Regions from separate parts of the Homo sapiens genome. Here region 1 is reported to be linked to region 2. The links are microRNA targets in miRTarBase. Many come from high-throughput screens and were not tested one by one. Region 2 holds a microRNA gene; the other region holds the end of a gene's coding sequence.
What was found. Region 2 holds the annotated microRNA hsa-miR-6775-5p (UCGGGGCAUGGGGGAGGGAGGCUGG, at 2,840-2,864, shown strand). A microRNA usually pairs through its seed, bases 2 to 8, with sites in the 3' UTR of a target mRNA and lowers its output. Matches are read on the target gene's strand: a 7mer-m8 pairs with bases 2 to 8, a 7mer-A1 pairs with bases 2 to 7 and ends in A, and an 8mer does both.

Region 1 (5,064 bases), not on the chromosome of region 2:
GGATGAGTCCAATGCCCCAGAGATCTGGTTTTTCTGTGCTGCCTGGCAGCCTGGTTGGGAGTGAGAAGGAAACAGGTGTGTGTGTGTGTGTGTGTGTGTGTGTGTGTGTGTGTGTGTGTGTGTGTGTGATAATGGGGAAGGGTGGAGTGTGGGGAGGGGTGGTCGATTTTTCTAGAGGTACATCCTGCCCAACGAACCCCCAAACCAAGGAGCCACACAGAGTTAGCTGGATTGAAGTGGGTTCAAGTCATTTATTTTTAGACTGTACCAGCATGTTTGGTTCTGGGGTCCAATCCCCAAATTCCAGAAAAATAAACTAAAGAGAACCACATGCACTAAGAGGAGGCCATTCCGATGAGTCCGTGATCATGCGGTGAGTGGGCTTAGAGTATAGAACAGGGACCCCTGGTATGGAGCAGGGCCTTCCCTCCCCAGACAGCTGACAGCAGCTGGCTCTGAGCCCTCATCGGGGCTGGGGAGAGGGCCAAGTCCTGGTCATTTGGACCCTGTCCCCGTATAGACCCGGGCCCTTTATTGCTACATTTGCTACTTTGCTACTTTATGGCCCCTGGGTCTAGCCCAGGGGATGCCTTATCACTGGGTGGTACTAATGAGTAGGTTGCTGGCATCTGCTGTTGCTATGGTTACACGAGCACAGGCCTCTCTTCAGAGGGTCCCATGGTGAGTTATTAGTGATTCGTCTGGCCACTATTCAACTTATCCCATGGTCTTTGCTACATATTCAACTTGGGCAGCTCCTTTTTGAGGCTGGTGGTGCATTATCTCCCCCCGAGCCCAGAGTTTCCCAGCTCCTGGACCTTGCAGCAACACCTCCCTCCAATACATTCTGCAGGGCCCAAAGGAAGAGAGCCCTTAATCCTTTCCCTCTTCTGGGAAGGCTTTCCTGGTGGTGGTTTTTGAAGCACATGTATATGGAGCAGAACAGGAGGGATGCATTTTAGGAAAAACATCACCTTCCACAATCACCAAGGGGGCCAGTTGGGTGGCAGGCTCCTGGTTCAGCGTCCTGTTGGTGAGGTAGTTTGAAATCCCAGGAATCCTGCCAGGGAAGAAGCCCCTGGAGCATGTCCCCATGTGTTCAGCTAGTCCAAGCTGCAACTCAGAGTCGCAAGAGGTCCCTCCCAGGATGCTGGCCCGGTACCTGACCACTTAGCGGTGGTGAGCCTGGAGCGCAGGCCCAGCTGACTGCACTGGCAGTTGGGCCCTGCTTTGTTCCTGGGGTATAGCAACACCTTCCCAGGAGAACAAAGCTGACGCATCACTTTCTAGAAGGGCAGGAGGCTCCTCCCCAGCCCAGAGAGTTCCTGCTGCTTAGTTCAGGCCATCTGGCTGCGGCTGGACGTTTATATGTGCCAGCCTACAAGCTTTCCTCTTCCCATGTAGGGAAAGGTTATTTTAGTCAGATGCCAGTGCCTGGTGCCTTGTGTGTCTAACCCGACGGGTGGGTGGTCACTTGCTGCAGCTGCCCTGATGCTGTGGTTGTGGGGCTGCCAAGATGTGGCTGGAGAGCACTTTTCCTCATAGGGAGGAGTCCTAGGCCCAGAGACCACACCCAGTCAGGGAGGCTAAGGCAGCTTCTAGGGGGAAGGGACGGGGTAGGGGAATTTGCTTTGCTACAGAATTGCCTGCAAACATCTAATCTAGTCTGAATTTTTGGCTGTGTAGACCAGGCCAATGGGGGACGGGCCAAGACCAGATTTTCCAAATGTACTTGCATGACCAAGTTCTGCGTGGTAGATGGACCTTGGATAGGCAGCCTCGTTCCACTCCCTTCTTGCAAAGCTTCTGGCTTGATCTACTGGGGAACATGAGTGCCTTAGCTGTGGGGTGGTGTGAGAGTATTATTGCTCTGGGTTTGAGTCCATCTGAAGTCTCCCTAGCTCCGTTGTGCTTACTGACCCTCCCCTCTGGATGTCCCCAGAGGTGCTTGTAAGCCTGCAGCCAGCTCCATCTCAGGGCCACAGTCCACCTGGCTCTGGTCAGATCCTCTGGGGATCTCCAGGGTGAGACCAGTCAGAAGGAGAAGGGGGCACAGAGGGAATGGCCAAGAAGCCAACCCTGCCCTGTCTGCAGCCTGGCTTAGAAAGCCCCTGCATCATGGGGAGGAGCAGGGGGCAGCCAGGCCCCTTGCCCTGGATAACTGAGGGCACTGAGGTGCCTGCTGCTTGGGAACACCCTTTGCCCTATGCCTAGGGGTCAGCACAGCCCGGGGATCCTTGGGCAAGGCTGGGGGCAAATGAACTTAGACTGTAATTTTGTTCTGAAACATGAGGTTTATACAAAGAGAAAGAGGATGAAAGGGGCCTGTCAAAAGACCCCATAACTTGGAATGGGGCTTTATGCCATTGATTTACTCATCAAGTGGTTAGTGCCTCCAAAGTACCAGCCTCTGTGCTGAGCATGTGCAGGTGTCCAGCAAGAATTGCTGCCTCTGAGACACTGAGGACTCAACATCTGTCATCTCTCTGGTTTCCACTGTACCTCCAAGAGAGGAACCATTGCCAGTGGGGGAAACTTGGGCATGGTAGTCAAGAACTCACAAGGATACAACATAACGAAGACTCCTAATGCCCGCGATGGCACTGCTGTGAGGGACAGAAGGCTGGTGCCCTGGGGACAGGGCTGTGTGGAAGCAGACATAGACAGGACTTGGAGGTGGTGGGGTGGAAAGATGGGTCACTGGGGAGCACCCAGGAGGCCGGGTCTGCAAATAAGCAAGCATCTGAGCCTTTGGTCACCAGCTGGCGAATTTGGCTGCATGAGAAAAGAAATACCAGCGATCGCTTTATTGCTTCTATGTTTTTTGTTTATATGCTCCCAAGAGAGATTTTTTTTTTTACCTATGACCAAAAATAGATCAAAGGAGGGTAGTCATAGCAAGTGGGGGAGTGAATGTCTGGATTCAAAACAGGTTACTTAATACAGCTCTGTCTGTGGGCTCATGGGTGTCACAATAACAATGACAATGATGATAGTATTAGCTACCGTTTGCTAAGCACCTACTGCGTATCAGGCACCTGACTCGGTGCTTTACATACATTACCTCACAGCCAGGTTGGCAAATGGTCATTTTGACACACACACACAGGGAATACAGGTGGATCTTTTGCAGGTTTTTGCATTTCCCCTAGGTGACCGGTTTAGAGGGGTGCTTTGGCTGGGCCTTCAGATAAAGACTGGGAGGAGAGCCCTGTGGCCTGGCCTGGTCCCTTCGTAGCATACTCTGCCCCAGCTTCACACACAAAGGAGACCTGACCCAGCAAGGGTCTCACTGTGCCTGTCAGGATGCCACCACGTGGGGGCTGCCAGCCCTGCAATCCAGCCACCTCCTGGGCTGGGGACCCTCCCAGCTCCCACCTGGGGCTGCCAGAGGGGAGAATCCCAATGGCCCCTGAGTTCATGGCCATGTTTATTTTGAGTAAAACATGAGGGAATAAACCAAGGAGCAAGGGGGCAAAGCCAGAATAAATTATGAAATAATTTTCTAAAAGATGGTCAGCAGAATCCCCGCAGCTGTGAAACAAAAAGCTCTGTCATCTACAACAGTGCTTCCTCGAACGCTGGACCCTTGAGACATGTGACGGGACCTGAGGGCAGCCACCGGGCTGGCGGGGACCTCTCCGAACGCTGATCTCAAAGAGGGTGGAAAGACCTTGAGGCGGGGCAATCCGTGAGGTTGCTTTCTTGCTGAAGATGTGATTTGGACATTTTACGTGAAAGCAGTGCCTGGTGCTGGCAGTGACACCCGGGTGGCCACAGAGACGTGAGGGATGACAGGCGGCGGTGGGGATGTAGTGGCTGTAACTATGGGAGGTGCCAGGGAGGTGATGCAAATGCTGGATGTGCTCTCGGTCCACTCATGCCTCTTGAATTTGCCAGAAGGTGTGACCGTCTCCAGACAGCGAGGGAGTGAGGATAATAATATAATCTCAAGTGATAGTCGTGACAGGAACCCCACGACGTGTTCTCCCCTGAATGAGCTGGGATCAGGGCCTCTTAGCGAGTGGAGTGTTGGAATACAACTGTACAAAGAAGAGAGGGCTGTAAACAGGAGCCTCCACCGGGCCCAGCCCAGGCTCTGTGGACTCTTTCTTTCTGGTCTCCCCATTCACCCACCGAGTCTCCCCACCATCGCCCTTCATTGCCCTCACTCTTTCTCCTTCACAGTGACCAAGTCTCCTCGTAAGGAAACTCTGTCCGCAGATGTGGAGCGCCGCCGCCTGCCTGTGGGGTCCGCGGGCCCAGGCCCTGGACCTGCGGTAGGAACGGTCAGGAGGACTGCATCAGGCCCGTGAGGCGCTTGCCCGCCAGCGACTTTCCCTGCAGAGAGACAGCGACAGAGAGGCACGCACAGGCGCACACACAGAGGGACAGAGACAGAGAGCCAGACAGGTGAATTAATTGTTGCATGAGCCATGTAGGCCAAACGACCAACCAACCCAACTGACCATCTTGATATTTGATCTCTAGGTGTATGGGAGCCTTAACTTTGGACAGCTGGAGAAACCAGGGCTCCAGGGAAGGTTCAGGGAGTCCTGGAGGGTCCCCTTATGAGGGTGTGTTGTTGGTACTCTTTTTGTGGTATGGGAATTTTACTTACCAAAAACCAGGTATTTAAACCTTTAGGTAGAGCAATTTTTAATGCCGGCGGGCTGCCCTGAAATTGATTTTGTTCACGTGGGGGAGGAAAAGGTGGACTTGGGGTGTTCTGAGATCAGGGACGGGGGCTTGACTCAAATAGAGGGTGGCCAAGGATCTGGCTGATCAGAAGCTAATGAATGAACTAGTCTTAAGAAGGCAGAGTCCTGTTTGGAATGCAGGGTAGACACAAAGACCTTGAGTCCTCTTGATGACCAGTTCTGGGACCATGAAAGTGGGGGGCATTTGCTGGGGCTCAGAGCCACTGTAGGCCCCAGGGCAGTGCACTCCTGCTGTCTCCTATGTTCTTGGCTTCCCATCTGTGGCACCCAGAGGCAGAGTTTGATGACCCCATACCAGGAAAGCCTACAAGCCCTTCAACTATAACCCATGTGGCAGTTCTTC
Region 2 (5,073 bases):
CTCCTGCATCTTTCCGTGCCAGCCCGCGTGACTGCCTTTGTTCCCTCTGGCTGTGTCACACATCACTCCAAAATGTAGTGTTCTAAAAGGAAAAGCACTTATTATCTCACAGTTTCCGTAAGTCAGGAATTCAGGGAGCTGGTGCCTGAAGCTGTGTTCTCATCGTAGGGTGTGACCAGGGCTGGAGAGGCCACTCCACAGTGGCTTCCTCCAGGGCTGTGGGCTGCAGGCCCCACCCCTGAGCACACTGGGCTCCCCCAACAGGCTGCTTCCCCCAAAGCCAGTGAGATACAGCAGAGGAAGCTGGGGTCTGGCAGCTGTGGGCTGGCCTCAGAGGTCCTGGCCCTTGCTTACTACTCCTTCCCTGAGTTAGAAGCCAGTCAGGAAGGGCAGCAAGTCCTGGACTCTTTGGCAGCTGCACGGTCCTCGGGAGCACGGCTGTGCCGGGGGTTACAGAAACTGTTTTCTTGGTGACCACTGGGTTAGGTCAGGTTGTGGCCCTCGCACACAGAGCCACAGTCCAGCAGAGCCCAGCTGTGTATGTACACTGTGTTCTTCACCTGTCCTTAACCCAAATGTGGTCTCCATTTCCTCCTCTCCTCCCTCCTTCCCTCCTCTCCTCCCTCCTTCCCTCCTCCCCGCCTCTTCCCTCCTCCTCTCCTCCCTCCTTCCCTCCTTTCCTCCTTCAAGACCTTGCATGTTGCTCAGATGAGGTTTCTCCTTTAAAACAAAATTCCCTGGTGCTCAGCTGGGCCCAGCCAGGCTGGACAGTCCCCGGTGGCCACCACGGCCGTCCACAGCCCTGCTCGTGGGCCCCAGGGCTCAGCCAGCCGCCTCTCTCTTCCAGTGTGTGATGACGCTGCTCTACGCCTTCTCCAAGGACATCTTCTCCGTCATCAACTTCTTCAGCTTCTTCAACTGGCTCTGCGTGGCCCTGGCCATCATCGGCATGATCTGGCTGCGCCACAGAAAGCCTGAGCTTGAGCGGCCCATCAAGGTGAGCCCGGGGCCTCCCGCTCACCCAGGCACCCTTCACAGAGGCAGGGTCCGTGGGTCCTAAGGACCCTGAGTTGGGAGCCAGCATCCCAGCTCAGCCTCTGGACCTGCCCCTGCCTGCATGCACCTGGGTCGACTAATTCCGGTGATGACTTGACCACCAGCTACGAGGGTGCCAAGTGTGACTGCAGGAGCCGGGGTTCCTCAAAGGACAGCAGATGGCACAGAGCTTGTGCTCCGTTGGGTGGAGGGAAGCAGATAAGGACACTGCAGTCATAGGTGGGCGGTGGTGAGCCCCGGCAGGGGCGGGGCAGAGCCGGGCCTGGCGCAGCATTCAAAGGGCCGTCGGGGCTGTGCTGGCAGGAGGAATGCAGGGAACCCGGCCCGAGGAGCGCCTGGGCCCAGCTGGACTCTCCTGGACTCTCCCCGTCCCCAGCGGCTCATTCAGAGGGGTAGCTGTTATCCGTGGGCTGCCTTCTCCAAAAACGGGGCCGTCCAGCAGAGGCCATGCTCTTGCCTGGGGCCCAGCAAGTCCCGCCGCCCTGGCCCTGACACAGAACAAGAGGCCAGAGCCCCTGGTGGCTGCTAGCCAGCAGCTTTTGTCACTCAGCTGGCCTATGGCTGTCACAGTAGCCCCTGCTTCCCTGCCCGGACCATCTCTCCCTCTGTGTTCCCGAAGCCTGGGGGCCCCGGGGGTGCCTGTGAATGCTGTTGAACGGGCTTTAGGCTGGGCGCGGTGGCTCACGCCTGTAATCCCAGCACTTTGGGAGGCCGAGGCGGGCAGATCACAAAGTCAGGAGATAGAGACCATCCTGGCTAACACGGTGAAACCCCGTCTCTACTAAAAATACAAAAAAATTAGCTGGGCGTGGTGGCGGGCGCCTATAGTTGCAGCTACTCGGGAGGTGGAGGCAGGAGAATGGCATGAACCTGGGAGGCCGAGGTCGCGCCACTGTACTCCAGCCTGGACGACAGAGTGAGACTCCGTCTCAAACAAACAAAAAAAACAGGGGCTTTAAAATACAGTCAGCACAAGAACCCAGATGCTGCCCCAAGAGAAGGCTGCAGAGGGCAGGGAGGAGCCGCCCTACATGGGCACCAGCTTGTGCCTGCTGTGCCAGCCTGGGGCAGTGCCTAGGGCACAGGGCAGTCACTGCGCACAGCGGGGGCTCAGCCCCCATGGGGACCTGGGCATGGGGTAGGCTCTACCCACTGTTGTGAGCCTGGGCACGGGTTGGCGTCTGTTCCCTGGGGACAGGGCAGTCATGCAGCCCACACTGATGGGCTGGGACCTGTGGTCAGCCCTGCATCTCCCAGGGTGCCCTGTCCAAGTATGGATTCAGGACAGCTGAGTCAATCCCCCAGCCATGCCGAGCCGCAGGTTGCGGCCTGCAGGCTCCTTGCAGCCCTGCCTGGCTTCTGTGCCGGGTGGAGCTCATCTGCTGAAGGTGACAGTTTAGGCTGCAGCTTCAGGGATGGGCTTTTGCTCAGCGCTGTCCACAGCGGCGTCTCCAAGAGGGTGGTCTCCTGGCTTATTAGTGGGTGGCCACTGTCTCCTGGAAGCATCAGGCCCCTGTGCGTCCTGGCGGCTCAGGGTTTCCAGGCCTGTGATGTGGGAATGGAGCCGTGACCTTCCCTGCCCGTGGGAGGCCTCGGGAGACGAAGCTGTCTCCTTCCATCCCTCATCATAAGCCGCCTGAGCCCCTGGCAACATGCCCAGCACTGTATGCAGAGTCGAGGGCGGGACAGCCCGGTGTGTGAGGCAGATGGAGTGCAGATCGCATCTTGGTGACCTGGAAGTCAGCAGCCGTGGGTGTGGAGGGCCCAGGAGGGCTGAGGAACCTCGGGGCATGGGGGAGGGAGGCTGGACAGGAGAGGGCTCACCCAGGCCCTGTCCTCTGCCCCAGGTGAACCTGGCCCTGCCTGTGTTCTTCATCCTGGCCTGCCTCTTCCTGATCGCCGTCTCCTTCTGGAAGACACCCGTGGAGTGTGGCATCGGCTTCACCATCATCCTCAGCGGGCTGCCCGTCTACTTCTTCGGGGTCTGGTGGAAAAACAAGCCCAAGTGGCTCCTCCAGGGCATCTGTGAGTATCTCGCTGGCCCACAGCCCGTGGTACCCTCTGCCCTGGGCAGCGAAGGGAGTTGAGAGGCGTCGGCCGTCTCCACCCACATGGGGCGAAGCGTGTTGGGTGGCAGGAGGGTTCAGGTCACTGCAGTGTCCGCCAGTGACACGCAGCCCACATGGTTCAGGGATAAGACACACAGCGCAGCACCAGCTAATCTCTCAGGACGAGGGATTCCGGAAAACCAGGCTACTGCTGCCAAGTAACAAAATCCTGCTGGCTGCCACCAGCGGACACAGCAGACTTACCCAGAAAGGCAGAAAGAGGCAGAGGCAGGCGGATCACTTGAGGTCAGGAGTTCAAGACCAGCCTGGCCAACATGGTGAAACTCTGTCTCTACTAAAAATACACAGATCAGCTGGGTGTAGTGGCACACACCTGTAATCCCAGCTACTCAGGAGGCTGAGGCAGGAGAATCACTTGAACCCGGGAGACGGAGGTTGCAGTGAGCCGAGATCGCACCATTGCACTCCAGCCTGGGCGACAGAGCGAGACTCTTCTCAAAAAAAAAAAAAAAGGCAGAAGGAGAAACCCGCCCCCCGGCCCTGTGTGCAGCGGCAGCCCCAGGGGTGCTTTGTCACCAAGCTCAGGACCCCGTCCTCAGCGCCTGCAAATGTGGCCAGGCTCGTAGAAAAAGGCCGGGGTGCTTGCGGGCCTACATGCTGATCCCCATGTCACTGGGTGGCTTGGAGAATTCCCGGGATGGCAGCAACACAGGCAGGGAGACCCCCCACCCCTACCCCACACTCTGATCACCGCCAGGGTCATGGTAGAACATTTGCCTCAAGCTTTGCAGTGGGATCTGCATTAACTGTCATTCAGGACACCAAGAGCTTAAAGCAAACCCCCGTCTCTATCCTGAAAGCAGTCCCCCTCCACAGAGTGATGTCTCTGTAGACAGTCCCAGGCGCGACAGGTCTTCCGAGGACCCGTTAGCAGATTGGCCCCTCCGGCCCTGCCTGCTGTGAACAGTCCAGGCATGTGTCCAGGTGGTGGCCCGGGTGTGGACCTGCAGGAAGGCCTGTCATCCCCCCGTTGCACTTTGCTGAGACACCAGGGCCTGGTTCGTGTGCCCCAGGGGCCGCACTCTGCCTCCCCAGGGTTCTGAAGCAGGCGAGGGGTGGGCCGAGTGGGATGTGGCACTTCCGCATTTCAGTTGAAGACAGCGCCTCGGGCACCCGGCACCCACATGCGCAAGTACACAAGGGAAGGTTCCTTAAAATCCCAGCGCTGGGCAGCGGCGCTGGGTTTGGTGACAGCAGGGCTGGGGGAGCCCCAGCTCACGCCCCCGTGTCCCACGGGTGCCTACCCAGCCCCCAGGCTAACACAGCTGTCTTCTCTCCTGACAGTCTCCACGACCGTCCTGTGTCAGAAGCTCATGCAGGTGGTCCCCCAGGAGACATAGCCAGGAGGCCGAGTGGCTGCCGGAGGAGCATGCGCAGAGGCCAGTTAAAGTAGATCACCTCCTCGAACCCACTCCGGTTCCCCGCAACCCACAGCTCAGCTGCCCATCCCAGTCCCTCGCCGTCCCTCCCAGGTCGGGCAGTGGAGGCTGCTGTGAAAACTCTGGTACGAATCTCATCCCTCAACTGAGGGCCAGGGACCCAGGTGTGCCTGTGCTCCTGCCCAGGAGCAGCTTTTGGTCTCCTTGGGCCCTTTTTCCCTTCCCTCCTTTGTTTACTTATATATATATTTTTTTTAAACTTAAATTTTGGGTCAACTTGACACCACTAAGATGATTTTTTAAGGAGCTGGGGGAAGGCAGGAGCCTTCCTTTCTCCTGCCCCAAGGGCCCAGACCCTGGGCAAACAGAGCTACTGAGACTTGGAACCTCATTGCTACCACAGACTTGCACTGAAGCCGGACAGCTGCCCAGACACATGGGCTTGTGACATTCGTGAAAACCAACCCTGTGGGCTTATGTCTCTGCCTTAGGGTTTGCAGAGTGGAAAC

Region 1: miRTarBase lists RGS6 as a target of hsa-miR-6775-5p. Seed matches in the 3' UTR shown: 7mer-m8 at 3,681-3,687 and 7mer-A1 at 467-473.

The regions. Positions count from the first base shown.
Region 1 is chr14:72,561,694-72,566,757 of GRCh38, reverse strand. It overlaps RGS6 (regulator of G protein signaling 6), which reads right to left. Exons shown (of 18, transcript NM_001204424.2): 18 at 228-4,341. The coding sequence ends at 4,291. Among named protein-coding and RNA genes, the nearest start is that of MIR7843, 47 kb to the right of the region's middle.
Region 2 is chr16:87,832,422-87,837,494 of GRCh38, reverse strand. MIR6775 (microRNA 6775) reads left to right here and starts at 2,835; the gene lies at 2,835-2,903. SLC7A5 (solute carrier family 7 member 5) reads left to right here. Exons shown (of 10, transcript NM_003486.7): 8 at 848-997; 9 at 2,904-3,081; 10 at 4,470-5,073. The coding sequence ends at 4,525. It overlaps SLC7A5-AS1 (SLC7A5 antisense RNA 1), which reads right to left and starts at 1,230. Exons shown (of 2, transcript XR_007065175.1): 1 at 693-1,230; 2 at 1-82. RefSeq lists enhancers at 1-818, 2,910-3,464 and a silencer at 2,598-2,892.